Regions from separate parts of the Homo sapiens genome. Here regions 1, 3 and 4 are each linked to region 2. Evidence: fine-mapped expression QTL. A gene starts in region 2. Each other region holds a variant in brackets. All regions are shown on one strand. Distances are from middle to middle.

Region 1 (7,855 bases), 81 kb after region 2:
TATTAAAAAGAGAGAACTACTGAAACAGGGAACAATACCGATCTCAAAAATGTTATTCCAAGCAAAAGAAGTCACACATACACACACAGACACACATACATGCAATATGATTCCATTTATATGAAGTTATAGAAAAAGCATAACTACTTTATGGAAGAAAATCAGAACAGGACTTGCCTTTGGAGGTGTGGGTTGGGACTGTCTGAGAAGTGGTATGGGAGAACTTTCTGGATAACGGTAATGATCCATATCTTAAAAAGGATTTGACTTACATAAGTGGATGGGCTTGCCAAAATTAACTTAAACATACAAATAGGGTTTTTGCATTTAACTGTATTTAAACTTGACCTCAAGAAATAAAATCAGGGCCAGGCATGGTGGCTTATCCCTATAATCCCATTACTTTGGGAGCCCAAGGTTGGAGGATCCCATGAGGCCAGGAGTTCAAGATTAGCCTGGGCAACATGGCAAGACCCATCTCTCTATATATATACATTTTCAAATGAGCCAAGCATGGTGGCACACACTTGTAGTCCTAACTATTCAAGAGACTAAGGCAAGAGAATCACTTGAGCCCAGGAGTTCAAGGTTGCAGTGAGCTGTGATCACGCCACTGCACTGCACTCTAGCCCGAGCAACAGAGTAAGATCCTATCTCGAAAGAAAAGAAGAAAAGAAAAGAAAAAAGAAAACTTGTAAAAAAAAAAACCTAAACCTGGGAATGTATTTGAGAAAGAAATGTTCTTTTGTCTATAAATTATTTTTAAATGCATTAATAATATTGAGGCATGGATAGAGGGAAGGATAAATGAATAGATATGTGATAAAGCAAATGCAGCATAATATACCTTTGGGGTGAGTATATGGATGTCAACTGTAAAGCTGTTTCAACTTCTAATTATAAAATATCAGAAAGAAATGGCACACATACCTTAAAAAATAAAAAGGAAAACACATCCTACAAAGAAAATACATTAAAAATTAAAAATAAATAAAAAGAAAAAATGTGAAAAACTCCACAAAGATGTCTTCACATCTTCATTGCTGAATTCTACCAAACATTGAAAGGTAGAAAGAACAGTACTTCTACACAAACTCTTCAAAAAAAAAATCTATCGGAAAATCTATTCTCTGAGAAAACGGAAGAACAAAACCAAAGACACTGTAAGAAAAGAAAGCTACGAAGCAGTATCCCTCATGAATACAGATGCCAAAATTCTTAGCAATATATAGTAATGACATAAGAATACATAGGAAGGAAAATACATCATGACCGACTGGGATATATTCCAGGAATGAAAGATGGATTTAACATTCAAAAAAATCAACATAATTCACCATGTTAACAGACTTAAAAAACAAACTGTATGACAGACACAAAAAAGCACTGCAACAAAAATCTTCCCTTCCTGATTTTTAAAAACTCTCAGGAATATAGACATATAAGGTACCTTCCTTGGCGTAATAAAGGGGACATATGAAAAATCTGTATCTAACATCCTGGCTAGTGGCAAAAGGCTACTTTCACCCTCAGATCAGGACCAAGGCCAGGAATGCCTACTCATCACTTCTATTCAACATTACACTAGAAATTCTAGCAATGCAATCATACAAGAAATAAAAAGCATACAGATTAGAAAGGAAGAATATAAAATTGTCTTTATCCACAGATGATGTGATCAGCTCTATAGATAACACTATGGAACCTGCAAAAAAAAAACTGCTAAAATTAATAAGTGAGTTTAAGAAGGCTGTAGAAACAAAGTCAAAATACAAAAATCAGTTGTATTTCTAAGACCAGCAATGAACAAATAGAAACTGAACATTAAAAAAAAAATACTGGCCAGGCGCTGTGGCTCACGCCTGTAATCCCAGCACTTTGGGAGGCCAAAGCGGGCAGATCACCTGAGGTCGGGAGTTTGAGACCAGCCTGACCAACAGGGAGAAACCCCGTCTCTACTAAAAATACAAAATCAGCCGGGCGTGGTGGCACATCCCTGTAATCCCAGCTACTTGGGAGGCTGAGGCAGGAGAATCGCTTGAACCCGGGAGGCAGAGCTTGCAGTGAACCGAGATCACGCCATTGCCCCTCCAGCCTGAGCAACAGGAGCGAAACTCCATCTGAAAACAAACAAACAAAAAAAGCCATTTATAATAACAAATAGGAAATGCTTAAGGATGAATTTGACAAAAAATATGCAAGACTTGCACAGTGATGACTACAAAACATGCTCAGAGAAATTAAAAAAAAAAACAAATGGAGACAATCTTTCATGCTCTTCTTTTCTAATTTGGGTCCAGCAGAACGGCTCCACAAAGATGGGCGGCAAGAAGAAACATCCTGCCATCGATAAGGTGACCCGAGGGTACACCAGCAACATTCAGAAGCACATCCATGGAGTGGGCTTCAAGAAGCATGGCCCTCAGGCACTCAAAGAGATCCAGAAATTTGCCATGAAGGAGATGGGAATTCTAGATGTGCGCATTGACACCAGGCAAAACAAAGCTGTCTGGAACAAAGGAACAAGCAATATCTCATAGGATCCCATATGTGGTTTTCCAGAAAACATGATGAGGCTGAACATTCACCAAACAAGCTCTATACATTGATTACCTATGTGTCTGTCACCACTTTCAAAAATCTGTCGAAAGTCAGTGTGGACAAGAACTAACCACTGATTGTCAAATAAAGTGAGCAAATCATACACACACAAATAGACAGAATCATGGCCCTCTACTTTGAGTAACACATATACTATTCAGATTAGAAGACTTATTATTAGCAAAATGTTGATTCACCTCAAATTGATCTATACATTCAACGCAATTCCACTCCAAATCTCAGTAGAAACTGAAAAGTTGATTCTAAAAGTTATATGAAAACATAAAGGACCTAGAATAGCCAAAATAACTTTGAAAAAGAGGAAAAGAGTTAGAATACTCATACTACCTGATTTCAAGACTTACTATGAAAGCTACAGTAATCAATGAAGTATGGTACTGTATAAAGACAGGTAAAGTCTGGGTACAGTGGCTCACGTCTGTAATCCCAACAGTTTGAGAGGATCACTTGAGCCCAGGAGTTGGAGACCAGCCTTGGCAACAAAGTGAGACCCCCCAATCTCGACAAAAATTCAAAAAATTAGCCAGGGGTGTAGCATGTGCCTGTGGTCCCAGCTACTCAGGAGGCTAAGGCAGGAGGATTACTTGAGCCCAGGAGGTGGAGGCTGCAGTGAGTCATTTTCATTTCACTGCACTCTAGCCCAGAAAACAAAGCAAGACTGTCTCAGGAAAAAAAAAAAAAGAAAAAAGACAAGCAAAAAGATCAATAAAGCAGAAATTACCCACGCATATGGTCAGCTTTTATTCATTTATTTTTTTTACAAAAGGTGCCAATAAAGATGGGAAAATGTACAGAGCAAGCTGGAGAGCCACATGCAAAGAATTTAATAATAATAGAGAGGAAAAAGAACTTCAACCGTTACCACAGAACATTTATAAAATTTAACTTGAAATAGATCATAGACCTAAACTTCCACAAGAAAACATTGAAAAAAATCTTACTGAATAGGGTTAAGCAAACATTTCCTAACAGAACACAAAAGAAAACTACAAAAGAACAAAATCAATAAACTGACTTCATAAAAAAAAAGTTTGATCTTTAAAAAACACTGCTACAAAAATGAAAAAGGCAAGCCAAAGCATGGAAGAAAATATCTGCAAAACATATAACAACTCAGTAAATATGAAGATAAATCCTTTTTTTTTTTTGGGCGGGGGACAGGGTCTTGCTCTGTCGCCCAGGCTGGAGTGCAGTGGTGTGATCTCGGCTCACTGCAACCTCCGCCTCCCAGGTTCAAGTGATTCTCCTGCCTCAGCCTCCCAAGCAGCTGGGATTACAGGGGCATGCCACCACGCCAGTTAATTTTTGTACTTTTAGTAGAGACAGAGTTTCGCCATGTTGCCCAGGATGGTCATGAACTCCTGACCTCAAGTGATCCGCCCGCCTCAGCCTTCCAAAGGGCTGGGATTACAGGCGTGAGTCACCACGCCAGGCCAATAAATCCATATTTTTTCTTTTTCGTGTGTGTGTGTGTGTGTGTGTGTGTGTGTGTGTGTGTGTGTGTGACGGAGTCTTGCTCTGTCACCCTGGAGTGCAGTGGCGTGATGTCAGCTCACTGCAAGCTCCACCTCCCGGGATCACGCCATTCTCCTGCTTCAGCCTCCCCAGCAGTTGGGACCACAGGCGCCCCCCACCACCACGCCCAGCTAATTTTTTGTATTTTTAGTAGACA[A/C]AGGGTTTCACTGTGTTAGGCAGGATGGTCTGGATCTCCTGATCCGTGATCCGCCCGCATCGGCCTCCCAAAGTGCTGGGATTACAGGCGTGAGCCACCATGCCCGGCCTAAATCCATTTTTTTAATGAACAAAAGATGACACTTCACCAAAGAAGATCCATAGATGGCAAAGAAACAAAATGCTCAACATCATTACTTATTAATAAGGAAATGCAAATTAAAACCATAAACAATTTTAGAAAGTGACTATGCCAAGTGTTGCTGAGCATGTGGAACCCCTGCACTCTTGTACACTGCTGATGTAAAATAGCACAATCCACTTTGCAAAACAACATTTGTGTAGGTTTTAATTTCTTTACAGATATTAACACTTTAAAGAAATGTAAAACAGTCATGTGCCGCATAATGACATTTTGGTCAAAGACAGGCCGCACATATAACGGTGGTCCCATAAAATTATAGTACTGTATCTGTACTGTACTTTTTCTATGTTTAAATACACAAATATCTACCATTATGTTACAAATGCCTAACGTATTCATTACAGAAACATGCTGTATAGGTTTGCAGCGTAAAAGCAATAGACTACACCACGTAGCCTAGGTGTGTAGGAGGCTACACTGCCTAGGTTTGTGATAAGTACATTCTATGATACTCACACAATGAAGAAATCACCTAACAACACATTTCTCAGAATGTTTCACTGTTGTTAAATGATGCGTGACTGTATTAAAAATTAATATAAACAATAAATAAAAGAAATTAAATATTTCCTTATTTTCTCTTAGCAATGGCTTACAGTCTTCACTTTAAAAATAGTAAACATTTAAGCATAACACTATCTTACAAACTAGCCGTTTTACACCTGGCTATTCACATAAAGAAATAAAACTATATGCCTACACAGATTTTTACATGTATTTTAATAAGCATTTTTATTTGTAATAGCCAAAACCTAAAAACAACCCCAAAGTCCATTGCGGTAGCTTTAAAATATGACAACAAATTCTTTAACACTGCTTTCTTCAAAAGCAGCCCCAATTCTTTGCTCTTTGAGTGTGGGCTAGATGGAGTGACTTACTTCTAGCAAACAGTATCATGAAGAAAGTAACAATGTGTGACTGCTGAGACCAGGTTATAAAAGGCATTGAAGCTTCCAGCCAGATGCAGTGTCTCAGCACTTTGGGAGGCTGAGGCGGGCAGATCACTTGAGGTCAGGAGTTCCAGACCAGCCTGGCCAACATGGTGAAACCCCAACTCTACTAAAAATACCAAAATTAGCTGGGTGTGGTGGCGCACATCTGTAATCCTAGCTACTCAGGAGGCTGAGGCACAAGAATCGCTTCAACCTGGGAGGCGGAAGTTGCAATGAGCCAAGGTCATGCCATTCACTCCAGCCTGGATGACAGAGTGAGACTCTGTCTTTAAAAAAAAAAAAAAAAAAGGCATTGGAGCTTCCTGTTTGCCCATGCTGCTCTTGGATCACTTGTTTTAGCAGTAACCAGATTTCATGTCATAAGGACACTCAAGCATCCCTGCAAAGAGGATCCTTGGTCAGAGGACCAGAGACTGAGGCAATCTCATGAAATTCCTGAGTCAGAGTCACCCAACTAAGCCACTCCCAAATTCCTGGCCCAGAAACTGTAAGATAATACATGCATGTTGTTTCATGCCACTAAGTTTTCAAATAATCTGTTATACAGCAGTAGATAGCTAATATAACCATCCACAGGTAGATGGATTTTAAAACTTGTGATAAATCCATACAATGCAATCGTATTGAGCAATAAAAAGGGAATGAAGGACTGAAACATGCAATATAATTGGACCTCAAAATAACACTGAAGAAACTAGACTACAAAAGTCCATTTACATACAATTCTAGAAAATGCAAACAAACCAATAATGATAGCAGATTCACGACAGACTAGGAATGAGGGAAGAAGGGAGAGAAACAGAAATTACAAAGTGGCAAAGAAAAACTTTTAAAGCATGATTGTTATATTCACTAAATTATTTGTAGCGATTTCATGGAGATGTGTGGATCTCAAAAGTTATCAAATTGTATGCTGTAACTATGCAGTTTATGTCAATTATTCCTTAATAAAGTTGTTAAAAAAACATCATTATATTCCAAAGAGAAAAGCAGAACATTTTTCTCTTTTCTGCTTTTCAACTTTTTTTTAACTTTTAGGTTCAGGGGTGCATGTGCAGGATGTGGAGGTTTGTTACATAGGTAAACGGGTGTCACAGGGATTTGTTATACAGATTATTTCATCACCCAGGTATTACACCTACTATCCATTAGTTATTTTTTCTGATCCTCTCCCTCCTCCTACCCTCCCACTCCAATAAGCCACAGTATGTGTGGTTCCCCTGTATGTGTCCATGTGTTCTCATCATTTAGCTCCCCCACTTATAAATGAGAACATGTGGTATTTGGTTTTCTGTTCCTGTGTTAGTCTGCTAAGGATAATGGCCTCCAGCTCCATCCATGTTCCTGCAAAGGACATGATCTCATTCTTTTTTATGGCTGCATAGTATTCCATAGTGTATATGTACGTATGCATTTTCTTTATCCAGTCTACCACTGATGGGCATTTAGGTTGATTCCACGTCTTTGCTGTTGTGAATAGTGCTGCAATGAACATACACATACATATGTCTTTATAATAGAACTATATTCCTATGGTTATATACCCAGCAATGGTATCTCACCCAGCTGATGTGAGATGGTATATCTCATTGTGGTTTTGATTTGCACTTCTCCAATGATCAGTGATGTTGAGCTTTTTTTATATGAGTGTTAGCCACATGTATGTCTTCTTTTGAGAAATGTCTGTTCATGTCCTTTGCCTGCTTTTTAATGGGGTTGTGTTTTTCTTTATAATTTAAGTTCCTTATAAATTCTGGATATAAGAGCATTATCAGATGAATAGTTTGCAAATATTTTCTCCCGTTCTATAGGTTGTCTGTTTACTCTGCTGACAGTTTCTTTGATTGTGCAGAAACTCTTTAATTAGATCCCATTTGTCAATTTTTGCTTTTGTTGCAGTTGCTCTTAGCAACTTCATCGTGAACTCTTGGCCCATACATATATCCTGGATACTACTGCCTTTAAAATGTAACATTACCAAAATTAAATTTTCTATACACTTGAATAGAATGTCAAGTATTTCATGAAATTAGATGTCAGTAATCTAGACTATTTACTGGCTTTGTTTTGGAGACAAGAGTCTCACTCCATCACGCAGGCTGGAGTGCAATGGCATGATCTCAGCTCACTGTTACCTGTACTTCCCAGGTTCGAGCAATTCTTGCGCCTTAGCCCTCTGAGTAGCTGGGACTACAGGCATGTGCCACCATGCTCAGTTGATTTTTGTATTTTTACCAGAGACGGGGTTTCGCCATGTTGGACAGCCTGATCTCGAACTCCTGACCTCAGCCTCCCAAAGTGCTGGGATTACAGGTGTGAGCCACTGTGCCCAGCCACAATAATGTAGGCTATATACTTTTAATACTTCCATTAGTGTGAAAAGTATGTTGTCAATAAAGCAACA
Region 2 (7,855 bases):
ATGGAAGAGTCACAGTCAAACAGTTCCTGAACGCCCACTGTGAGCCAGGCATCATGCTCCCCACGGAAGGTTACCCAGAGGACAGGATGCCTGAACTGGGTCTTAGAGACCAGCAGGAGAGCACTCCTGGATTTCTTACAGCAGTGACGCCCAAGCCTGCCTCTGTAACTCCATCCAAATACAGACTTCCAGGCCCCACCCAGGAGATTCTGAGCCCACAGGCTGGGGTGGGGCCCAGGATTCTGTATTTTCAAGTGTCCCCAGGTGATTCTGATGCATTTAGAAAATGGACTTACTGTATAGGCTAGAAGCAGCTCCTCCTATACTGGTACCTGGAACATAGCAAGCTCTGAAGTTTACTGATTAACAAATAATATGCTTCCCTGTTCACAGATAATAAACTAACAGATTAATTAAAACCTTCAAACATATTTAAAACAAGATACATGAATCCTTTTTAGCTAATATCCAATTAGCCAAAATAAAATCTAAGGTCACTAATAATGTTCTGTGATCTATTTCTGCAACCATTTCAGCTACAAGGTGTTTCTATGCCACTTGAAAATGGCCTGAGACCTCGGTGTGTGGGCACCAGCCCCGTGCCAGTTCACTGTGGCCCTGCTCTGCATCTTGCAGCCATGCTGAGGTCCCAGAGCCAACTGAAGGGAAGAGGAGCCCCCAGGCTATCTTCAGACAGTTCTAACACCACTCAAATCAATTCTCCCTGGGAATAAACTGCCCCCTGGACTTTACAAGACAGAAGTGCTCCTTAAAGGGGAAATACAGCACAAAGGGAACAGCACTGACCTAGGATGCAGGTCCAGCCACAACTGAGTAACTTCTCCAGAAAGCCTTGGGCGAGTTTCCTCACCTGTCATGCTATATACTCCAAATCCCTTCCAGCTCTGGCACAGCCAGAGTGAGAAATTCTAGTTTCCTTCTTCCGAGTCAATACTGAAAAAACAATTCCAGTATAAAATTCCCTCATCTGTCAGGTGCTAGGGAGGCAGCATTTAAGACACGTCAATGTCAGTGCCCTTAAGGAGTTTAGAGTCTAGCAAGGAAGACAAATAATTACTCCAACGATTATATAAATACAACTGTGATAAATGTTACTAAGGAACAGTGCTTGGAGTTTGAAAGTGTGTAATGGGGGCTCAGGAAAGGTTTACCAAGGAAAGAACACCAAAGCCGAGACCTGAAAGCTGAGTACCAAGGATGGAGGCAGGGAGAACTCCAGACAGAGGAAAGGCATGTGACATATGTTCTTTTCAGGAATATTCCAAACCTGAGGAAGAATTAAATCACAAGTAAAATGAAGCAAACCTTTTAGAATCGCACATTTAAAGGAAAAAAAGAGCACTTTTCATCACAAACAGAAAAATTTACAAAATATGAACTCAAAAATCATGGGAATGCCAGGTGCAGTGGTGTGTGCCTGTAATCCCAGCTATGCAGGAGGCTAAGGCAAGAGAATTGCTTGAGCTCAGGAGTTCAAGACCAGCCTGGGCAACATAGCAAGAATTCTTATCAAAAACAAAACAAAACAAAGTAACGGAGGCCAGGCGCGGTGGTTCACGCCTGTAATTCCAGCACTTTGAGAGGCCAAGGTGGGTGGATCACCTGAGGTCAGGAATTTGAGACCAGCCTGGCCAACATGATGAAACCCCATCTCTACTAAAAATACAAAAAATTAGCCGGGCGTGGTGGCGGGCGCCTGTAATCCCAGCTACTCAGGAGGCTGGGCCAGGAGAATCACTTGAACCTTGGAGGCAGAGGTTGCAGTGAGCCGAGATCACACTGTTGCACTCCAGCCTGGGCGACAAGAGCAAAACTCTGTCTCAAAAAAAAAAAAACAAAAAATTTAGCCAGCGTGGTGGTGGGCACCTGTAATTCCAGCTACTCGAGAGGCTGAGGCAGAATCGCTCGAACCCAGGAGGCAGAGGTTGCAGTGAGCTGAGATCGTGCCACTGCACTCCAGCCTAGGCAACAAGAGCGAAACTCCATCTCACAAAAAAAAAAAAGAAGTAACGGGAGCAATTTTATGCCAGGACTGATAACCCCTTATCCAATCACTGACATCTGGCTAGAAGTCCCCAGACACTAAACCCTCACCCCTCAACAGAGGAGGTATCAGTTCCCTCTGGTCATTTGCAGCTGCCTCCAGGCCTTGAGTGAGGCTGCCAGAACTGGGCCCAGTAAAGTGGGGTAGTCCGAGCATGAAACACTTACTCCAAGACAGGAGGGGCTCGGCCCTGAGGCTGGATCTACCCCTGGGCCAATATTTCTGGTGCCAACTAAGAGTGCCAGGCATTGTACATAGGGATGGATGATAAGACATGATACAGTCACAGCACCAGGGAAGTAGAAAAGGAAAGAAGGGACGCTTCCTTGGCTCCAAGGAGGGGATGGTATCTGAAGATGGGCAAGACTTGGAGATGGAGAGAAGGAGCACCCCAACAGTGGGAATGACAAAAGCAAAGGCAAGTAGGCTGGAAAGCACTGGCTGTGCAGCTAGCGCTGCAGCGGGAGCTGGGGACAAGGGGACAGAGATCCGGCAACGGTGCAGAGTAGGCCCAGAAGAGATGACAATGCTATCTTCAAGGCGGTGTTTGGAGACCTGGTCAAATCCCAAGATCTGCCCAGACTGACCCTATGGCCAAGGGCCCTCAGTTTTCTACCGTGAACTAGTGCAAAGTTTCTCAAATATTAGGGTCATTAGGATCACCTGGGACAGGTTGCCAGGCTCCTCCTCCAGCGAGGACCTTCAGAGGTCCCAGGGTCTAGGGACTTTCTCAGGAGAGGTGAAAGCTGAGTAAAGAATGGCCAAGGGCCCAAGAGGACACTGTGGGCAGACAGTACAGCATGTATAAGGCCCACTCCCTACATAGCTAAGGTATGAGGTGCATGTAGACAAAGGAGGAGAGGTGAAGCCAGAGAAGTGGACCAGGCTCACAACACAACAGCCCTACCAATAAACTGGGACTTCACCCCGTAGGCAACAAGGAGCTATCAGAGACTCCCGAAGCCTGTAGGATCCTGGCAACAGCTCCCCTAGTCACTCACATAATACAACTCCTGTCTCAGCATGCTTCCCCAACCAACATCAGTCTCCACCCTTTAATATTACCTACTACTCCTTAAAATCTGGCCTCGGATCCCCTCTGTACAACTATTAGGTCAAAATCAAATAAGCAATTTGACCTAGGCAATTCACACTATGTCAGAAACACATCTCAGACAAGGAGAGCCAGGCAGTGAAGACAGATGATAAACAGAGATGGAAGCTGTCATGGAGGCAGACTGGTCCAGCCTGGGACAAGGCGGCCAGCTGTGCTCTCCCCAGATCATATCTGTTCCTCTTGAGCTTTCTCTTCCTCATTCGGAGGAACTCCAGGCTTCTCTAAATGGGTTCATGACCCTTGGAGGAAGGGGAAAAAGGGACACAGAGAGGAGATAAGATGGTTCACAATGAGTTTGACCAGATCCTACTGAAATACCTTAAGAGCAATGAGAAGTGTCACTGCAACTTCAACACTTCCAGAGGCCTCACCAAGGCCCTCTCCAGTTGCTCAGGATGACTACTGGTGACCAGTCCCATCCTCAGAAGTCAAAAACTGAGGAACATAAACAGAGGTGCAGACTCTGAAGGCAGTGCTGAACCCTGCAACGTTAGCAAAATGGGGGCGCGCGGACTCTCCTGGGGGCTGCGCTTAACTGGGGGAGAGGAAAACGAGGCGGTCATTAAAAACGCAGCTCCACTCCTCAGCACCAGCTGAGGGCGTCTGGCTCCCGGACACGCCCCCGAACGAGCCCTCCCGCAGGTTGTGAACACTACATTGCAAGCGGGCAGCTCAGGGAAGATCCTACCCGCTAGTTCCCCGGATCCCCTCCGGGAGCGCAAACTGACCTCGCCTAGGATGGGGTGGGCCACCCACCGGGAGCCCCCAGCCGCGGCCCGCTCACCTTGCACTTGAAGCCAGCGGCGGGCGGCAGGAGCTCCCGCAGCAGGCCCTTGGCCACCTCGCGGCTGGCCTCCTCGCTCACGAAGTGAAGGTTAAGCACCTCGTGCGCCTCGAACTTGGCGAGGCGCAGCAGTGAGCGCAGCGCGACGCGGGCCTTGGCCTGCAGCGCGGCATTGTGCTCCGCCTTGGTGAACATCATCAGCAGGTGGTAGTCCACCGGCCCGGCACCGCCGCCCTCCAAGCTCTTGGCCTTCGCGCCGGGGGCTGGCGCCACGGAGCCCCGCGCTAGCTCCAGCGCGGGCGGCGAGGGCGCGGCGGGAGCCCCGGCGCGGGCCTCCTTCAGCCTCTTGGTGGCGCTGGAGAAGGTCTCCCGGCCTGAGCCGAGGTAGTAGAAGGCGCAGACGGCCAGCGCCGCGGCCAGCAGCAGGGCGCAGTAGTGGGAGCGCACAGCGCCCAGGCGCGCCATGGCCCGAGCGCATGGGAGCCCGCCTCGGAGGAGGCCCATGCGCTACGAGACCGCGGCGCCAGCGGTGCCAGCAACGCGGGAGAGCCCTCGGGTACCCGGACGCCGGCGGCCACTTAGCCCCGGCGCCAGGCGGCGGCCATGAAAGGGGCGGGGCCGCGCCGCCTGGAGCCAATCGCGGGCGCCGGTGCGCGGAGGGGCGGGGCCGGGCGTGCCGAAACCGCTGGGTCCTAGGTTCCAAGGGTATTAGAGGAGGGGTTAGGGTGGGATCCGGCGCCCGGCGTTGGGAGGGGGGGATTCCGGACTCCAGCGTGCTGAGGGCTGGCCCGCTGTCCCGGCTGAGAAATGGCGCCCTACGCGGCGAGCCCCAGAGGATATCCAAGCTGAGTGTTGAAGGGAATGGAGGCGCCCGAACAGAGGAACTTAGGTTAGCCAAAAGCGAAGCTGGAGGCACCAAGAGGTAAAACTTTAATCTCTGCACCTTTTTTCCCTCAATTTCTTGGAGGCTTTAAGCCGTCTCGGCCTCTCCCTGCACACGAGCTGCAGCTAGGCAATTTAAACCGGCAGCTCCTCCCTTTTCCCCCGCCCTGGGAGGAAATGGCCCGGGCCGCACGTCGCGCCGGAGGCCGAGCGGAGGGAGGCTGGAGGATGTGGCCAGCAGGGGGCCCCCGCCGCCCGCACGAACCTGCGAGGCTGCTCCCCGAGCCCCAGCACCGCAAAGCCCTGGAGGGCGACATTCATCCACTTTTGTTTTATAAACAGACTTTTAACACTTTATCAAGAGCCTCCTTGAGGGTACCAGGGAGTTTTGCACGCCGAGGTCACGTGCCCAAAGTCACACAGCTAGCCAGTAGCAATTTTGACCCTAGGCAGTTGCACACTGCTAACTAGATAAAAACGTACTAACTTCAGTCTTCTAAGAATTGAGGCTATACCAGTAGTTTTTAAGTAAACACGTGCAAGTGCTGTGCATGCTGTCTAAATAGACAAAGAACTTGAGTAAGTACAGTAACCCTTCAGTTCTTTGGCCAAGTTCTCTGATTTCTGACCAGAGATTAGGTAAACGGTTTTTCCTGTTATTTCCACATTGTAAGGTTGCATGGATTATCCAACCTCTCTGCTTCAGACCTTGGCTTACATGTCACTACCTACACAAATGATCTCTAAATACCTCCTATCCAGTGTCTGGGCTAAGTGCCATCCTCAATAATTCTGTGAGGGCCACCTAAATATATGTACTACCCTAGTCTCATCTTTCTTCATTGCAAGAACACGTGACTCCAAGAGAACAGAATATACATTTGTTTTTTATTAACCACAATATACCCAGTACCTAACACGGTGCCTACCACATTGGATGAGTCTCAAAAATATACTCAACCATTGAAACAGCATTTTTATTTCTAGAAAATCTTCCTAATAATTTAAGAATGTTCAAAATATTTAACCATAAGAATAAAGCAAGGCCAAGCATGGTGGCTTAGGCCGGGAATGGTGGCTCACGCCTGTAATCCTAGCACTTTGGGAGGCCGAGGAGGGCAGATCACCTTAGGCCAGGAGTTCGAGACCAGCCTGCCCAACATGGCGAAACCCCGTCTCTACTAAAAATACAAAAAATTAGCCAGACATGGTGGCGGGCGCCTGTAATCCCAGCTACTCAGGAGGCTGAGGCAGAAGAATCGCTTGAACCTGGGAGGTGGAGGTTGCAGTGAGCCGAGATCATAACACTGCACTCCAGCCTGGGCGACAAGAGCAAAACTCTGTCTCAAAAAAAAAAAAAAAGTAGGCAGTGTGGTGGCGGACACCTGCAATTCCAGCTACTCGAGAGGCTGAGGCAAGAGAATCGCTTGAACCTAGGAGGCAGAGGATGCAGTGAGCCGAGATCATAACACTGCACTCCAGCCTGGGCGACAAGAGCAAAACCCTGTCTCAAAAAAAAAAAAAAAGTAGGCAGTGTGGTGGCGGACACCTGCAATTCCAGCTACTCGAGAGGCTGAGGCAAGAGAATCGCTTGAACCTAGGAGGCAGAGGATGCAGTGAGCCGAGATTGTGCCTCTGTACTCTAGCCTGGCGAAAGAGAGCGAGACCCTGTCTCAAAAAACAAACATAAAAATAAAGCAAAGCTAGGTTCATGATGGCAAAAAATCAGAATCAAATGGTCATCAATAAAGTGGTTAAAGCTAAAATAATGCAGTCATTAAAAGTGATGTTTTCAACAAACTGCAGGTGGAAATTTAAAAAACTAACAAATGGGTGAGGTGGCTCATACCCGTACTCCAAGCTATGTGGGAGACTGAGGTGGGAGGATCACTTGAGCTCAGGGGTCCAAGGCTGCAGTGAGCTACGATCGCCACAGGACTCCAGCCTGGATGACAGTGCGAGACCCCAATTCCAAAAAAAAAATAGTAATGGTAACAAATGGAAAAAAAAACCTACAGAGACTAAGAAACATATTCACCAACTGCAACGTATGGAACTTATGTGAATTCTGATTTGCACGATCTATTTTAAAAATCGTATTTGAGAAACCAATTTGAATATTGATTATGTAGTTTTACAGTTTAAGAAGTGTTACGATTTTTTAAAGTCCTCAACTTTTAGATGTACATACGGAATGATTTGCTGGTGAAAGGTCTAGGATCTGGTTCCAAAAAGTCCAGGAAAGGGGAAAAATGGGTAGGAGAACAAATATAAGCCATGAGCTTATAGCTATTGATTTTCTCTACCTGTACATGCTTGAAATTTCCCATAAAGTTCTCCCCATCTATTAAGTGAAAGAAGTGGGTAACTGTATGATCCCATTATATAAATGTATGAATACACACACCCAAAGGTCTAGAAGGGTATACACAAAAAAGTAACAGTATCTCCCTCAGTGCTATCCAGTAGAACTTCCTGTGACAATGTATATATTCTACAATCTCCCCTGTTCAAAACAATAGTCACTAGCCACATGGGGCTATAAAGTTCTTAAAATGTAGCAGTACGACTGAGGAAATGAACTCTTTGTCTAATTCCAATTAAGTAGCCACATGTAGCTAGTGAGTTCCATTTTGGACAGCACAAGATAATGGAATTGTGGATGATTCTCTTGCTTCTTCTTAACATTTCTCCACAAGCAAAAAGCTTTGTGTTTGCAATAATTGAAAAATTAAACTGTTTTCACTTAAAATATTTATAGACTATTGATGTGGGTTCTCCACAGAACTATTCTGAAAATGAAATGAAGCTGAATAAAGCAAGTTATATTGAAAAGTTTATGTGTCTGCTTTCAATTAGCTTTTTTTTTTTTAAAGCAAATGCAGGTGATACACTTCCAGTTTGGTTTTTTCAACCTTCCATTCCTTCAGTCCCAATTCACTGACAAACGTGTGTGTGTCTGTTTACTAAAAGGATAAAATGGGAATGTGCTGCATAGATTAGGAAC
Region 3 (7,855 bases), 180 kb before region 2:
CAGGAAATAGGGGTGATGAGTCTCAGGCGTTTGCCTCCCCGTCAGCCCCCCTCCCTGGTGGTCTTCCTGGAGGGCTGCTGACACCTGCCCATCTTCTCTCTCCCTCTGGTGCTACTGTCTGAGCAGCTGTGCAGGAGCAGGAAGGAGGAATAGGCAGGGCCAGAAAAGTTCCCTGTGTCCCTGGGACTTCCTTCCCTCAGGCATTTCGGCATAAACACACGGAACCTCGTGGGAGTACAGCAGGAAGAAAAAGTGAGGAACCCTGAAGAAGGATCTCTCGGCTGGGCACGGTGGCTCACGCCTGTAATCCCAGCACTTTGGGAGGCTGAGGCGGGTGGATCCCTTGAGGTCAGGAGTTTGAAGCCATCCTGGCTAGCATGGCGAAACTCCAACTCAACTCCACAAAAATTAGCCGGGTGTGGTGGCGCGTGCCTATAATCCCAGCTACTCGGGAGGCTGAGGCATGACAATCACTTGAACCCCGGGGGAAGGAGGTTGCAGTGAGCCGAGATCACTGGGTAACAGAGTGAAACTCCATCTCAAAAAAAAAAAGAAGGACCTCTCCCAAACTTGCCCTCAGCCATAAGGCACCCCCCCTGCCAAGAGCCAACAGTGAGGTGCCAGGTCACATGTGGCACAGACATGGCCCCAGCCAGGAAGCCCTGCTCACCCCGTGAGATAAAGTTGCAAACTTAAGAAGCCATGTCTGCACATTTCTGCTGGCCAGCCGAATTCCACAAAGCCCCTGACTCTGTGACAACGCTCAACCCTCCGGAGGATGAAGTGAAGACAAAACAGGATAGAGCGCCCGGCCCCCAGCGTCTCTTCCTGAGTCACTATATTCCTTAAAAGATCCATGACCCTAGTGCTTGCCTTTTCCTACGCATAAGATCGCATCTGAAGGGGTCAGTGATGTCGCTTCTGGAGTCTCTAACCAGATGCACCCTTGCACGTAAGCCTTGATAACCCCCTGCGTATACCGAGCCTGTCTACCTGTGTGTAAACTGTGAGCTGAAACAGTCTTGGGGCAGCCTGACAGAACCTCTCGAAAGACTCCTCCCAGGCTGGAGTCCTCAGGAAACTTCTGAATAAAACGAACTTAATTCTTTAAAAGCTTGACTTTTTCCTTTGGTCAACACCCTCCCTGCTGAGATGATCCCTGGGGCCTCTCCTCAGGCTTTCCTGACACCAGAGGTCCTTCTCCTCATCTCCTCCTCAGAAGTCAGGGTCATCCCTACATCCAGGCTGGCAATAAATATTTGTTCAAGCCTATTATGGACAAGCACCATGCCCAGAAAAATGACGAGGAGGAGGAGAAGAACACCTCTCCCCATTCACAGGAATCATTACCCAGCTATATGTACATTATCTCAATTCCTCACAACTACCTACGGTCAGTATTATTTCCATTTTACGGACGAGGAAATGGAGGCCCAGAGAGTTACTGCGCCTGGCGGTGCACAGTGGCTCATGCCGCTAATCCCAGCACTTTGGGAGGCCGAGGAAAGCAGATCACTTGCAGTCAGGAGTTTGAGACCAGCCCGGCCAACACAGCAAAACTCCATCTCTACTAAAAATACAAAAATCATCCAGGCGCGGTGGCAGGCACCCGTAGTCCCAGCTCCTCAAGGTGCTGAGGCAGGAGCATGGTTTGAACCCAGGAGGCAGAGGTTGCAGCGAGCCGAGATTGCACCACGGCACTCCAGCCTGGGTGACAGTGAGTGAAAATCGGTCTCAAAAAAAAAAAAGTGATGTGCTGATGGTCACACATTCTGCCTTTTGCTGCATTAACTCAGAAAGAGCTCATCTCCTGTGCTTTCACCAAGTTCAGAGCTGGAGTGAGAAATAACATCACAGAAAGGATTCCTAGCGGGCTTTGGTTCTCTGGGAAGGTCCGGCTGGTAAGGCAGAAAAGCAGAAAAGCAGAAAACAGGCTATGAGGTCTGAATTGCATCAGGCCAGTTCCAACCACAGAGCAGGCTGTGGGTGAGGATGGGAAGATGGCAGGGATCAGCTAGGCTGCTCCCTGCCCCAGGGATACTTAGAGGCAGGAGGCCCGATTCAAGTCAGGGCCCTGGCCCTAGACCCAAAATCTTCTCGCTGAAAAAAACCTATAGAGATCACCCAGGAAAATGGAGCATGGAAGCCACCTGGGCAAGGCTGCCCAGCTAGGACATAAAGTCCACCCTCGCTAGGGCACCACAAGACTGCCTGCAGCCTTTCCCACCAGCGAGATGGCAGCCTCAGTGTAATGTATTTCATGCAACCCAGATTTTGAGCAAAGTAAACCGTACTCTTTTCAGAGGTCCAATTCTTTCCCTAAAATACTTAGGTCAGCCCTTGCAGCCTGCTGTTCTTCACTTGCTGTATTTTAGTGAGTTAAACCACCCAAGGATGTTCTAGGCAAAACTCCCACCACTACACACGATCACAGGACTCCATCGGCCCCAGAAACCCAACCCCAGGGATTCATTCATTCAATTAGGCTTCAGGGTCCAGGATGTGAAGAGCACAGTGAATCACACAGACACCCTCATCCTGGAGAGCCCACTCTGATGGCAGGACCATTCTCCATGCTGGGGACAGTACACCTTGGCTCTTGGCAGGGGAGCTTCTCTAATGGTGCCCAAGACAGCAGCTCCTGCCAGTTGCAGAAGCTGAGGGTAGGAAAGGGAGGCCTAGCAAGGCAGCCACTTCCAGACCCTCGAAATGCCAAAAACCTCCAGAGTGTGTGGTTCATCTGAGCAGCCGCAGAGTCTTCACGTGGACGTAACCTTCTCCCAAGCAAGGATGACCCCCATGGGAGTTACAGTGCTCTAAATCCTCTCCTTGCACGAGGTCAAGTAGGAAAAGAAATGATTGCCATATGAAAGTTCAAGTTGGGGACAAAAGGGGCTGAGTGAGGTCCCTGGAGAACAGTTCAGAGGAGCACGGGCTTTGGAGAGAGAATATCTGGATTTGCCCTTTGGCTCAACACCCCTTCCGACCTCTCCAAACCTCTTGGGAATGGTGACTCAGTACCAGTGTCACAGTCCTGGTCCCCACCCCTGGCCCTGCCGCTCCGGCTCCAAGCTGGTTCAGAAAATACGCAACTCACCCAAGGTGTCCAGGTCTGGCATCTCTGCCACTCTCCCATCCCTGGTTCCCTAGAATGGAGCCTCCATCCCCATGTCTAAGCATGCCAGCGCATTTCACCAGAGACCGCGGTGGGAGGGGGGAGTCCACCCAGTTCTACTCGAGAAGCACAGCAGTGCGGTCAGAGAGAAAGGAGCAGGAGCTTAGCTCCTGTGCTCCCTCACAGCTCCAAGAGCCCAGTCATCCTGCGGGCCGCGGTGGGCAGCCGCGAGCCACAACCGTGTCTGGTGACAATCCTAGTAGAGTTCCAGACTGATGCGGCGAGACCACTCCATTCCACCAGGGGCTGGCCCAGAGTTTGGTTCAAAACCGTCAGGTCGCCACTAGCCTCACTGTCCTTCGACTGTGGTGACAGAGCCACTGCTCTGAGCACTCACCTCATACCCAACACAGGAAAGAGGTGCCTCAAAAGCTTGCTGGGCTAGCCTCCTCCCCCACCCCGAGGCTAGCCCCTGAGGCAGCTGCCCCCACTCACCTCTGTCCTCTGTGCTGTCAGGCCTTGCGGAGGCCAACACTCACTATGACTCGGTGGTGCCCGAGCTGCAGAAGACCCAAACTTGACTTTTCAAGCTTCTCTTTCAAGGACTGCCTGGGGCCTGTGGACAGGGGCAGCTGCATTAAAGGCCATTTGTACACACAGAGCACACCTGGGCAAAACAGACCTGGTTTCCAGCACCCCCAAACACCCAGCTTGCCCCCAGCCTGCCCCACAGCTGGCCGCGCTGTGTGCCTCGAAGCCTTACAGCTCAGCACTCTACAGCACTGTCCTTGCTTTTAAATTTTTCTTTTTTTTTAAGGGAAGAAAATCCACAAAACAATCTGTCCTTCTGACAGGCCAGCTCAGATTCCTATCGTGCTAGGTTGGATCAAGGAGCATCATTACGACGGCTTTATCAGAACTGTCTGCTTCAGAAAATAAACAACTTATCAAAGGTAGCCAGGTCTGGCGTCTCGGCCGCTCCCCTACCCCTGCTTCCCTGGAACAGAGGCTGTTTCCCTGTCTCCATGCATGTGAATGCATTTCAGCAGAGACCACAGACCTGTAGGGGAGAAGTCTATCCAGTTGTATTCAACAAACACAGTGGTTAGGGGCAGGGGCTGTGGGGTCAGAGGCCTGACTATGAGCCAGGGCCAGTTTAGGATGGGCCCTGTGAGGAAGGTCAGGGAAGCTGACCTTGCTGCTAAAGGGAACAAAAGGTTTGAAGCGAGGTATGAGGAAGGTCACTCTGGCTGGGTGGGCACTGGCATGGAGGAGGAAGGGCTGGAAGCAGCAAGACCAGGCAGGAGGATGCTTTGGTGATGGGGGGGAGGGTGGCAGTGCCAAGGATGGAGACAAGCAAAGGGTTTAGGAGATACTTAGCAGGTGTATGACTAGCTCTAAGAACGGATGCATGTAGGTGATGAAGGGGGACAAAGAGCTCCGGGTCCTGGCTTCTGTCTTGAGCATTCTGGCTATGGGGTCAGTGGCAGTGGCTGTTCTAATCATGATCAGTGACTTGCATGATGACACTGGCCAGGCCCCTCCCCGATACCTCCCACCTGTACCACAAGGAGGGAGAGTGGCCTCCTAGGCCTTCCC[A/G]GCTCCAGGTCGCCTTGGTGGCAGCACTGTGGTCACCTCCTCCTGCCTCGGTGCAGCTTCTCTAAACTCAGGGCAGGCTGCGGGGAGCAGTAAGGGGGCTGGGAGGCACTGCCCGTGTGGCCCGTTGACACGCCACCGTCTCTCCAGGTGGCCTGCAGCAAACCCGCCTTTCCTGCTCCTCTGGACACAGCCGGCCTTGCCCTTGCCAGGCTGCGTGTGGCCCTGGAGCTCCTCTTCCGCCCTCTTCCCGTTTGTACCCACTCTCCAGGGAGACATTTTTCCCCTTTAAACTGGAAATGTGCTCCCTGGCTCCTCCTCAGATCCCTTGTGCTTGAGTTGCTTCTCCAGGCCTTCCAGATAAATCTCTTGAAAATCTGCTGTGCTTGGGGTGCTCCCTGTGAAAGCAGAAAAGCATCTGAGCTACCCTCCCTGTCTCTCCCCACTGCGCGCTCTATTCAGGTATCAACACAGGTATGCCTGGAGCTGGTAGAGCACAGAGACAAGGCAGTCAGGCTCCCTGCACGCAGGGCCTGCAACTTCTCAGCTCTCTCCGGATAGGGCACTGGGGCCTGGGCTTACCCAGAACAGCCAACTGGAATTTGAATGAACATAAAGAGTGGAATTTTTAACAGCCAGATCAAAGCGGGCATTAAAATTAGATGCTACTGGAGGAGCCAAGATGGCCGAATAGGAACAGCTCTGGTGTACAGCTCCCAGCGTGAGCGACGCAGAAGACGGTGATTTCTGCATTTCCATCTGAGGTACCGGGTTCATCTCACTAGGGAGTGCCAGACAGTGGGCGCAGGTCAGTGGGTGCGCGCACCGTGCGCGAGCCGAAGCAGGGCGAGGCAAAGCCTCACTTGGGAAGCGCAAGGGGTCAGGGAGTTCCCTTTCAAAGGGAGTCAAAGAAAGGGGTGACAGACGCACCTGGAAAATCGGGTCACTCCCACCTGAATACTGCGCTTTTCCAACGGGCTTAAAAAACGGCGCACCACGAGATTACATCCCGCACCTGGCTCGGAGGGTCCTACCCCACGGAGTCTCGCTGATTGCCAGCACAGCGGTCTGAGATCAAACTGCAAGGTGGCAGCGAGGCTGGGGGAGGGGCGCCCGCCATTGCCCAGGCTTGATTAGGTAAACAAAGCAGCCGGGAAGCTCGAACTGGGTGGAGCCCACCACAGCTCAAGGAGGCCTGCCTGCCTCTGTAGGCTCCACCTCTGGGGGCAGGGCACAGACAAACAAAAAGACAGCAGTAACCTCTGCAGACTTAAAGGTCCCTGTCTGACAGCTTTGAAGAGAGCAGTGGTTCTCCCAGCACGCAGCTGGAGATCTGAGAACGGGCAGACTGCCTCCTCAAGTGGGTCCCTGACCCCTGACCCCCGAGCAGCCTAACTGGGAGGCACCCCCCAGCGGGGCACCTCACAGGGCCGGGTACTCCAACAGACCTGCAGCTGAGGGTCCTGTCTGTTAGAAGGAAAACTAACAAACAGAAAGGACATCCACACCAAAAACCCATCTGTACATCACCATCATCAAAGACCAAAAGTAGATAAAACCACAAAGATGGGGAAAAAACAGAACAGAAAAACTGGAAACTCTAAAAAGCAGAGCACCTCTCCTCCTCCAAAGGAACGCAGTTCCTCACCAGCAACAGAACAAAGCTGGATGGAGAATGACTTTGACGAGCTGAGAGAAGAAGGCTTCAGACGATCAAATTACTCTGAGCTACGGGAGGACATTCAAACCAAAGGCAAAGAAGTTGAAAACTTTGAAAAAAATTTAGAAGAATATATAACTAGAATAACCAATACAGAGAAGTGCTTAAAGGAGCTGATGGAGCTGAAAACCAAGGCTCGAGAACTACGTGAAGAATGCAGAAGCCTCAGGAGCCGATGCAATCAACTGGAAGAAAGGGTATCAGCAATGGAAGATGAAATGAATGAAATGAAGCAAGAAGGGAAGTTTAGAGAAAAAACAATAAAAAGAAATGAGCAAAGCCTCCAGGAAATATGGGACTATGTGAAAAGACCAAATCTACGTCTGATTGGTGTACCTGAAAGTGATGGGGAGAATGGAACCAAGTTGGAAAACACTCTGCAGGATATTATCCAGGAGAACTTCCCCAATCTAGCAAGGCAGGCCAACGTTCAGATTCAGGAAATACAGAGAACGCCACAAAGATACTCCTCGAGAAGAGCAACTCCAAGACACATAATTGTCAGATTTACCAAAGTTGAAATGAAGGAAAAAATGTTAAGGGCAGCCAGAGAGAAAGGTCGGGTTACCCACAAAGGGAAGCCCATCAGACTAACAGTGGATCTCTCGGCAGAAACCCTACAAGCCAGAAGAGAGTGGGGGCCAATATTCAACATTCTTAAAGAAAAGGATTTTCAACGCAGAATTTCATATCCAGCCAAACTAAGCTTCATAAGTGAAGGAGAAATAAAATACTTTACAGACAAACAAATGCTGAGAGATTTTGTCACCACCAGGCCTGCCCTAAAAGAGCTCCTGAAGGAAGCGCTAAACATGGAAGGGAACAACCGGTACCAGCCGCTGCAAAATCATGCCAAAATGTAAAGACCATCGAGACTAGGAAGAAACTGCATCAACTAACGAGCACAATAACCAGCTAGCATCATAATGACAGGATCAAATTCACACATAACAATATTAACTTTAAATGTAAATGGACTAAATGCTCCAATTAAAAGACACAGACTGGCAAATTGGATAAAGAGTCAAGACCCATCAGTGTGCTGTATTCAGGAAACCCATCTCACATGCAGAGACACACATAGGCTCAAAATAAAAGGATGGAGGAAGATCTACCAAGCCAATGGAAAACAAAAAAAGGCAGGGGTTGCAATCCTAGTCTCTGATGAAACAGACTTTAAAGCAACAAAGATAAAAAGAGACAAAGAAGGCCATTACATAATGGTAAAGGGATCAATTCAACAAGAAGAGCTAACTATCCTAAATATATATGCACCCAATACAGGAGCACCAAGATTCATAAAGCAAGTCCTGAGTGACCTACAAAGAGACTTAGACTCCCACACATTAATAATGGGAGACTTTAACACCCCACTGTCAACATTAGACAGATCAAGGAGACAGAAAGTCAACAAGGATACCCAG
Region 4 (7,855 bases), 200 kb before region 2:
GGACCCCTGGGGCTTTCACGTCTGCAGCCTACGTACAGGAGGCCCCATCAAAAGAAATGACGCTTTAATTTCTGCTAAGGTCTACGGTCTAACGTGGTATGATAAGGGGATTTTTTAAACAAAGAAACTAGAATGCTTACTAGCCCATGAGTGACATGTCTTCCAAGCCCACATGGTCACACTTGGGAATTGCTGGGTTCCTTTTTGGTTTTTTTTTTTTTTTTGAGATGGACGTCTCACTCTGTCGTCCAGGCTGGAGTGCAGTGGTGTGATCACAGCTCAGTGCAGTGAACTCCTGGACTCAAGCCACCCTCCCACTTCAGCCTCCCAAGTAGCCGGGACAACAAGCACAAGCCACCACACCTGGCTAATTTTTAAAATATTTTGTAGCGATGGGGGCCTCCCTGTGTTTCCCAGGCTGATCTCGACCTCCGAGGCTCAATCGATACCCCCACCTCGGTCTCCCAAAGTGTTGGGATTACAGGCTTGACGACTGTGCCCGGCCTGGGCTTTTTGGAATGAGTCTTCCTGGTCCCGACAGTTCTCCTGCATGTCCTTGTGGTGGCCAGTCTCTGTTCTTTGATGACGAATTTGCTTTCTGAGTAGAGTCTGGTCACCTGGAGCTGGTTTGGTGGAATAAAGGACAATGGGGTTCTAGGATGTAGCTGGGAGATACAAGCTGTGAGTACTCTAATAATGAGATAAGTTTTCTTATGCAGGCCCCAGTTGGTCCTGAAGTCCTTCCTCAAAGAGGCGATCCTGAAACCTACACCAAGTGACGTGAGCATCAGGAGAATGCGCGTGCAGCAGCCTCCCAGGGTGAGTATGTGATGGGCTGGCATTCGTTTGGAAGCTTAGATACTGGGCTGGTCATTAAAACCTTGGCTTACCTTACCCGTTTGGGGCTCGATGGGTGCTAAAGCAGTTCTGTTTGTACTTTCTCGAAAAATGGAAGGCTGTCAATTTAAATTAAATTTATATTGGTCCAAAAAAGGCCGGGTCTAAAGGATTTCCATTCCTCAGAGGCAGACAGCAAGGGGGACCCTTTCTCCCCTTCCTTCTCTTCAAGTGCTTGCTTCCCAGCCCACTGGACATGCGTGTCCTTTGTGTCGCCTGCTCCCTGGAGGAATAAGGTCCCAAGCACCAGCAGTGCACAGGCCAGTCCTTGGCGGGTGGCCTCAGCACAGTGACCTGCCCGGCAGGAGGTCTCAGCACCTTAATCACAGGACTTCCCTGCGGTGTCTCTCTAGCGGGTCAGACACTGCCCTTGGGTCTGTCCCAAGGAACCCTGTCCTTCCCCCAGATCTGGAGGCCCCGGGGGCAAGGCACGGGGAGCGCCTAGTCCTCCGGGATGGGAGTGTTGCAGTTCCCGTGGTAGATCTTGACGTGGCCCTCACACCTGAAATAGGCCTCGAAGACGTCACTGTAGCCATGGTCCCTCCACCAGGTGCACAGCTGCCGGTTCCAGGTACAGTCCAGCACATGGAAGAGCTTGGGGTGCTCCATGCCGATCATGGTGAAGAAGTCCTGGTCCCCGAGGTGGCCGCGGAAGTGGTACTTGTCGGCCAGCTGCTGCACCTGCGCCGGCTCCAGCAGGCGGCTGTAGAGCGGGGACTGGCGCATGGCCTCCAGGTTCAGCAACATCACCCCGCTGTTGAAGCCCGGCAGCCCCTCGGGGGGCGGGCCCCCAACCCGGGTCTGGGGGTTCTCATGGCGGAACTGCCAGAATGTGTGCCTGTGGAGAGAGAGGACAGAGTTAGTCCGGTGTGCAGGGGAACCAGCCTGCCGGCCTGCTGCCCTGGGTCTTCACAGCCAGCCTGCATGCAAACACTGCCACATTCCGGGGTGCAGAATCCGCATCACTACACCAGCAAGTGGCAGAGCTGGGACCTGAACCCAGGGCTCTGGACCCCAAGCCTCAGATTCTTTCTACCATCCTCTGCTACGTCCTCACCACAGCCAACATTGATATTATTGACTGAGGATGTACCAGGCGCCATACTAGACCGGCTTACTTACTCCCCACACAACCCCAGGGGATGGGTGCTCTGAGATGATACATCATTTCACAGCCAAGAAAACGGACGCACAGAGAGGTCAAGGTATTTGCCCAAAGTCACACACCTAGTAAGCAGCAGACGCAGGGACTAAACCCAGACAATCTGGCTCCAAAGTCCACATTCTTAAGATAGCAGCAATCTAGGTAGAACTTTCCACCCCCTTGTCTTCACCTGTGATCTTGAAAAGGAGAAGGGAGAGAGAAGCAGGGGACACAATCCTGAACAGAGATCTCATCAAGACGCAGGCAGCTGAACCCTGACTGGAACAGAACTGTTTTCTGCTTTAGAACAAGGCTCATTCATTGAGCCCCAAGCCTGGCACTTCAGAAAGGCTGGGCAGGGGCTGGGGGCCTGCGACAGCCCAGGGCACACCATGGGTTAGGGTGAAAGACAGCTGTAGAAGAGCCATGTAGGATGATGTCTACTTTAGAAGGAATGTCACTTCAAGTTCAATTTTTCTCTCAGCAGATTTAGAAACCAATCTAGGTTCATAGTTCAGGGAGTGTTAGCCTCTTCTAGGTCCTCTACCCAAATGCTTCCATCTGGAGGGGAGAAGAAAGACCTAGACACCTCCCTGTGAGGGCCAGGGTTAAAGCGCTGCACTGTCCTCCAGCCTCTTTAATAGCTAAGCCTCATGTGTGCTGCAAGGGGTGTGCAGGTGGAGGGGAGAGGCGTCCAAGCCCACACCCACAGAGGAGGGGCCACAGCAATCGTGCCGGTGACCTGGAGGAAGGAGGACCATCAGGAGGCCCACTGTGGCAGGGACAGGCGTGGGAGTGGGTCCTCACGGGGAGGACACATCGTGGCAGAACCAGCTCTGCCTCCCAGCCTGGAGATGCTGCCCCACCGGCCCCCGCAGAGAGACTTCCCCACCCAAACCCAGGATAGGATCTGCGTGATGAAGCAGAAGGTACGGGGGAATAAAACCGGAGACCCTGCCCAGGGTGGCCCTGAGGGGCCACTTC[T/G]CAGCACCAGCACATTGCTCCGCTTCTGGGAACGGAGGAACCTTCCTCAAGGTCTCACGTATCACAGAGAGTGCCAAGAGTCTGATCCTGGCGAGGGGGAAGCATTCCCTCCGGACATTCTTACAGGGGAATCCACAGGGCCACTGCTTGTGTTCTGCTGTGAGTGGAACCGAGCTCTGGTGCCTGCCTGGTGGTAACAGCCTTGGCAAAAATAAGCTTCTCAAGCAAACTGAGATGCTGTCATCTTGCCACAAAAGTCTGCGGTGATAGGGTCACACAGGGTTGGGATGCAGTGTGGCAGCTGTGTGTTCATTTTACCCTATTTCTTCCCAGTGGTTCATTTCAGGACCAGGTTATAAAGCAGCTAAAATTCTACCAGGCAGACCAGGGCACCATGACATCAGAGAGGAGGGACCCTCTGACTAGGGGCAGTGGGTGCTTTACCACCAAGGAGCTCGATTTACCCTTCGAGGGGTGGGAACGAAGCGTTTACCGAGGTGGAGCAGAGACCCAAAGGGAGGGAGGGCACGAGAAGCAGGGAGGCAGGACCTGTGGCCGCCGAGGTCCTGGACTACCTCATGCTCCACGGAGCCCACGTGTCCATCTTTCTTTACTGTCCAGAGTACCCAGGAGGGAGAGGACTCACCCAGCTGGGGGTGTGGCCCGTGCAGTCTCTTGTGTCCACAGGACCTCACAGGGCACCAGCACAGCAGGGCCACAGGAAAGATCACAGGGCTGATGAGGAACGATGGAAAGGCAGGCGTGGGGTGGACCGTGCAGCTGTCGACACCGGGTGGAAGCAGGGGGCAGGACACTGAGGACACGATGCTGCACCTGCAGATTCACTGAGCCCTCAACCTCCCCACCAGATCTACTGTGGGGTTGAGTGAGGAGCAGGAACCCGGAGAGGCTCAGGTGTCTTTTTAAACGGCTTTACTCCTAGCAAGTGGGGAGCAAAGAGGCCGCCCACTGTTCCAGGTATCCTTACCAACCTCGGCAGGAACGCTCCCAAATCTTCTGTGTCTGCAGCAAGGAGGAGCAAACAGTGAACTAGCACTGAGCTCGCTGGGCTCAGGAGATGGGGGCCGCAGGCAGAGAGAAGAGGACAGAATATGCCTCCAGGAGAAGGCCACAGCACAAGTGGCTCTTTGGGGACAATGCTCAGCACCACCACTCAATCAGGATGAAGAGGTATTTGATGATGGTCAGAAAGGACTGGTCTGGGCATCAGCCTGAGAAGGAAAGGAGGGACAGGAAATTGGGCGTGCAAGCTGCCCCGTGTGTGTGCTGCAGCAGAAACACAGCCTGAAAAGGAACAATGACTGTCCCCACCCAAAGCGATGTTCAGGGGGCCCTTGTTCAAGGCGTCCCTACTATCCCCAAATGAACCCAGAAAGACAGAGCAGTCACCTAAGGGAATGGTGGGTTTCTCTGGCTTCTGTGTCTGCTGGTTCTCGTAGAGGAATCGCATCAGCCTCGGGGTAGAAGGAATGGTACGGGGTGTGGACAGTATTGGAGCTCGTGCGAGGAACTTCTATCCCATGGCAAAATGGCCTAAACAGGCAGTACCGCCAATCCCCCCAACGCAACAGCACAGCGTGGGTCACGAAGCCCTCTCACACTCTCCACCTCGGCTCCCTCTCCCTGGCAGCCCAGGGACATTACTGCCTGCATTTTTGCAGAAAGGGAACAGAGGTCCTCAGTTTGTCGCAGGCAGGGCTTCTGATCTCTGAGGTCCCTTTGATCTGACTGCCTCGGATTCCACGGGCTAGGGTTCCAAGGAGGTGCGCTTGGATTTCAATCTTATTTCTGAATTTGGGTGGCACCGGCCGAGGCCAGGGGACAGGGTGATCGGGTGATGCTGGCACATTAGGAACTTAGGGCTCAGACCTGAGGCCTCTACGAGGCAGGGCAGTGAGTGTCCCAGACCCCTGCCCTTCTTCACAGGAGTCTGGGGCTGACAACGTATATTCAGGGGCACTGTCTGTGGCACGTGCAGAGGCTGCAGGAAACCTTTGTATAAATGCAGGTATTTGGTTCTGAGTCCTGGAGCATCCAGAAGTTTCTCTGACTAACCCCTCCCCCCCTCATGCCCACAACCCAGCCACTTTGCTCTAACTATCTGGATTGTCTAACCGTCCGGCCTGTGGAGAGTCTTGTTCCTGTCTTCCATAGTCACCTGGAGACCCACGGTAGAGGGGATAAGCCTTTTTCACCCCTTTAGAAATAATTTCAACTGGAAAACAAGCCCCCACGCAGACAGTCCCTGGTAAATATTGGGTCTTTTCAGAAGTCAAGGAGGCCCTTTGGGAAAATAAAAATTAAGAAGCTTTAAGAACATTCTTCCAGTCATAAATGCATTTTCTAAATTTTTAACATTGAATATAACTTAATAATCATAAAAAAGACTATTAAAAGCTAGTCAACTAGTTTTCATGAAGAAAACCCATCTTTATGGAAAAGGGCATCTGAAGTCATTTGGAAAAGCACAGTTACTTCCTCGCTTCAAGTCTTTCCCTGATGATCACAACCAAGGCCGCTCTGCTAAGGGCTCTCGAGAGAGCCGGGCTGGAGAATCTAAGGGCTCGTCCTCCCCAGTAAAGGGCACACGTGGCCATCAGCCCTCCCACCTCCTCCTCCCACCACTCCAAACCACAGGCCCTTTTGCCTCCGACTCTTCGTGATTTTTTTTCTCCTGCCCCTTTCTCAGCTCCTCAGGTCGAGTTCACCACCACCACCTCCAAGAGGGAGGAAGCGAGGATGGGAAAATGCTGAGCCTGGGCTGTCTGCACAAGACTCTGCAGGAAGGTTCTAGAAGCCTGTGCTGACTCAGGCTAAGTTCAGGCTGTAGACTGTCAGGCAAAGAAGGCTCCATTTGAGGTCTGAGATTCAGCACACGGCCTCGCAAGGCGTACCTCTGGGGCGTCCTTCAGCCTTGAGAGCAGTCACTGAAGGGCCAGCATCTGGGCCTCCTCCCAGAGGAAGCACCCGGCCCAGAGGCTGTGCAGTCAGTGAGGCCTGGAACCCGGAAACGTGATTTCCCTCATACCCATGCATGTGTGCCTGGCCCAATGAGCTCGTTTGGCGTGGAAGGGACCTTGTTTTCCAGTCATCCAAGATGAGAGTCCAGGAGGGAAAAGCAACACTCAGCAGCTGTCCAGCACTTCATCCACACCAGCCAGGTCCTCTGGGGTGATCCAGGGACATTTCAAGTCCACCCAGGCCCAGAGGCTCTCCGGACACCCTGCGCCCTGGCTGGGTGATGTCGGCTAATTTCAGACCCATGACCCTGCATCTTGGTCCTACCTGGAGCTAAGGCTGAAGTTCTGTGGGGCAGTCTCGAGCTCTTCAGTCCTTTAGGGGAACCACTGCCCTGTGGTATCAAACTGGAGAAGACATGGACATCCTGGAGTTGTAGGACCACCACGGAGCTCTAAGTACCCGTGTCCCTAGAGCAGTCCTTACTGCCAGCTCAGAACTGACCCTTATTAGGATCTCTTGATAACAAGACCTAAAGCAGGCTGAGGTCTCCAGCTCTACTGGACAGAGAAGGTAAGAAGTGTTCCCAGGCCGGGAGCGGTGGCTCGCACCTGTAATCCCAGCACTTTGGGAGGCCGAGGTGGGCGGATCACCTGAGGTCAGGAGTTCGAGACCAGCCTGGCCAACATGACAAAACCCCGTCTCTACTAAAAATACAAAACTTAGCCGGGCATGGTGGCGTGCGCCTGTAATCCCAGCTACTCAGGAGGCTGAGGCAGGAGAATCGTTTGAACCCGGGAGGCAGAGGTTGCAGTGAGTTGAGATTGCACCATTGCACTCCAGCCTGGGCAACAAGAGTGAAACTCCGTCTCAAGAAAAAAGAATAAGTGTTCCTAACGTCACACAGGCCATTTGCAGTAGGACTAAGAGATGCTCCTCATAGAGCCACGGTCTACCAGAGCCTGAAGACTGAGGGACTCCTGGTTCATATACCCATTGTGCAGATGAGGAAGCTGAGGCTCAAAAACTGGCCTGTCCAGGGTCACGCTGCTGAAAGGGCAACTCCACATTTCCAGGCAAATAATTTATGCTTTTCCACAAATGCCTCTGCCCAGAAAAGGGAACTGCTGCCTCCCACCTACCCAAAACAAGCCCTGTGGTGAGGCGAGGCAGCACCGCTCAGACAAAGCCAGCCTGCCAGGAGGCGCAGAGGCTGTGCTTTCCCCTCCAGCAGGGCCCACGTCCTCCAAGCTCACCACACTAGCACTTGGAGGAGAGCTGGGTGCCCGAGTGGCTGGCAGGACTTGCCTGGGGAAATAGGAGGGACACTAAGCAGGTGGCAGGCATGTGCTCACCCTCGTCTGTGGGACCTCCTAAGAAACATGTGCTTGTTTTCAAACCCCAGCCCTCTTTGAAGGCCAGCAACTGAGTTGCCAAACCACAACATCCCCAGAACTTGGAAGGGGCAAGCGAGGTCGAGGCGCGGCTGTTGCTTTGCAGGCTGAGTGGGCACTGGGGTTGGCCCTCAGTGCTGCAACCAGGCTGCCTGGCAGGACAGGAGAGGACTGCTGGGGCACCGGGCCCCACAGAGACCCTGTGGGGAGGCACACCGCAGAGGGCTTCCCCTCCAGGCCCTCCCTCCAACATGAGCCACAGCTCCTCCCCTCCAGAAAGAACCAGCACCACGGCCTCCGCCTCCTGGAGCCTCTCCCCGCACGCTGGAGGCTGCCAGGGCCCTGCTTTGCAACTGCTGGCATCTCTGCACCATCTGCACAGCCTGAGAGAACAGAGGTTCAGGGAAGGAAGAGGGCCTGGAGGAAGGTCTGGGGGCTCGGGGAAGTGAGAAAAGAG

What was found. PIP is the estimated chance that this variant, and not a neighbour inherited with it, causes the effect.
Region 1: its variant is fine-mapped to the expression of XXYLT1 in whole blood (TOPMed, PIP above 0.99).
Region 3: its variant is fine-mapped to the expression of XXYLT1 in whole blood (TOPMed, PIP above 0.99).
Region 4: its variant is fine-mapped to the expression of XXYLT1 in whole blood (TOPMed, PIP above 0.99).

The regions. Positions count from the first base shown.
Region 1 is chr3:195,347,360-195,355,214 of GRCh38, forward strand. All of the region lies in intron 4 of ACAP2 (ArfGAP with coiled-coil, ankyrin repeat and PH domains 2), which reads right to left. It also overlaps the pseudogene RPL31P22. Among named protein-coding and RNA genes, the nearest start is that of XXYLT1, 80 kb to the left of the region's middle. The variant A/C (reference allele first, on the strand shown) is at 4,295.
Region 2 is chr3:195,266,589-195,274,443 of GRCh38, forward strand. XXYLT1 (xyloside xylosyltransferase 1) reads right to left here and starts at 4,571. Exons shown (of 4, transcript NM_152531.5): 1 at 3,967-4,571. The coding sequence starts at 4,470. RefSeq lists an enhancer at 3,810-4,601 and silencers at 3,852-4,031, 4,192-4,721, 4,972-5,201.
Region 3 is chr3:195,082,292-195,090,146 of GRCh38, forward strand. The region is part of intron 3 of XXYLT1 (xyloside xylosyltransferase 1); the gene reads right to left. Among named protein-coding and RNA genes, the nearest start is that of XXYLT1-AS1, 8.4 kb to the right of the region's middle. RefSeq lists an enhancer at 25-194. The variant A/G (reference allele first, on the strand shown) is at 4,715.
Region 4 is chr3:195,068,377-195,076,231 of GRCh38, forward strand. XXYLT1 (xyloside xylosyltransferase 1) reads right to left here. Exons shown (of 4, transcript NM_152531.5): 4 at 1-1,735. The coding sequence ends at 1,339. Among named protein-coding and RNA genes, the nearest start is that of XXYLT1-AS1, 22 kb to the right of the region's middle. RefSeq lists enhancers at 1-1,155, 4,728-5,228. The variant T/G (reference allele first, on the strand shown) is at 3,026.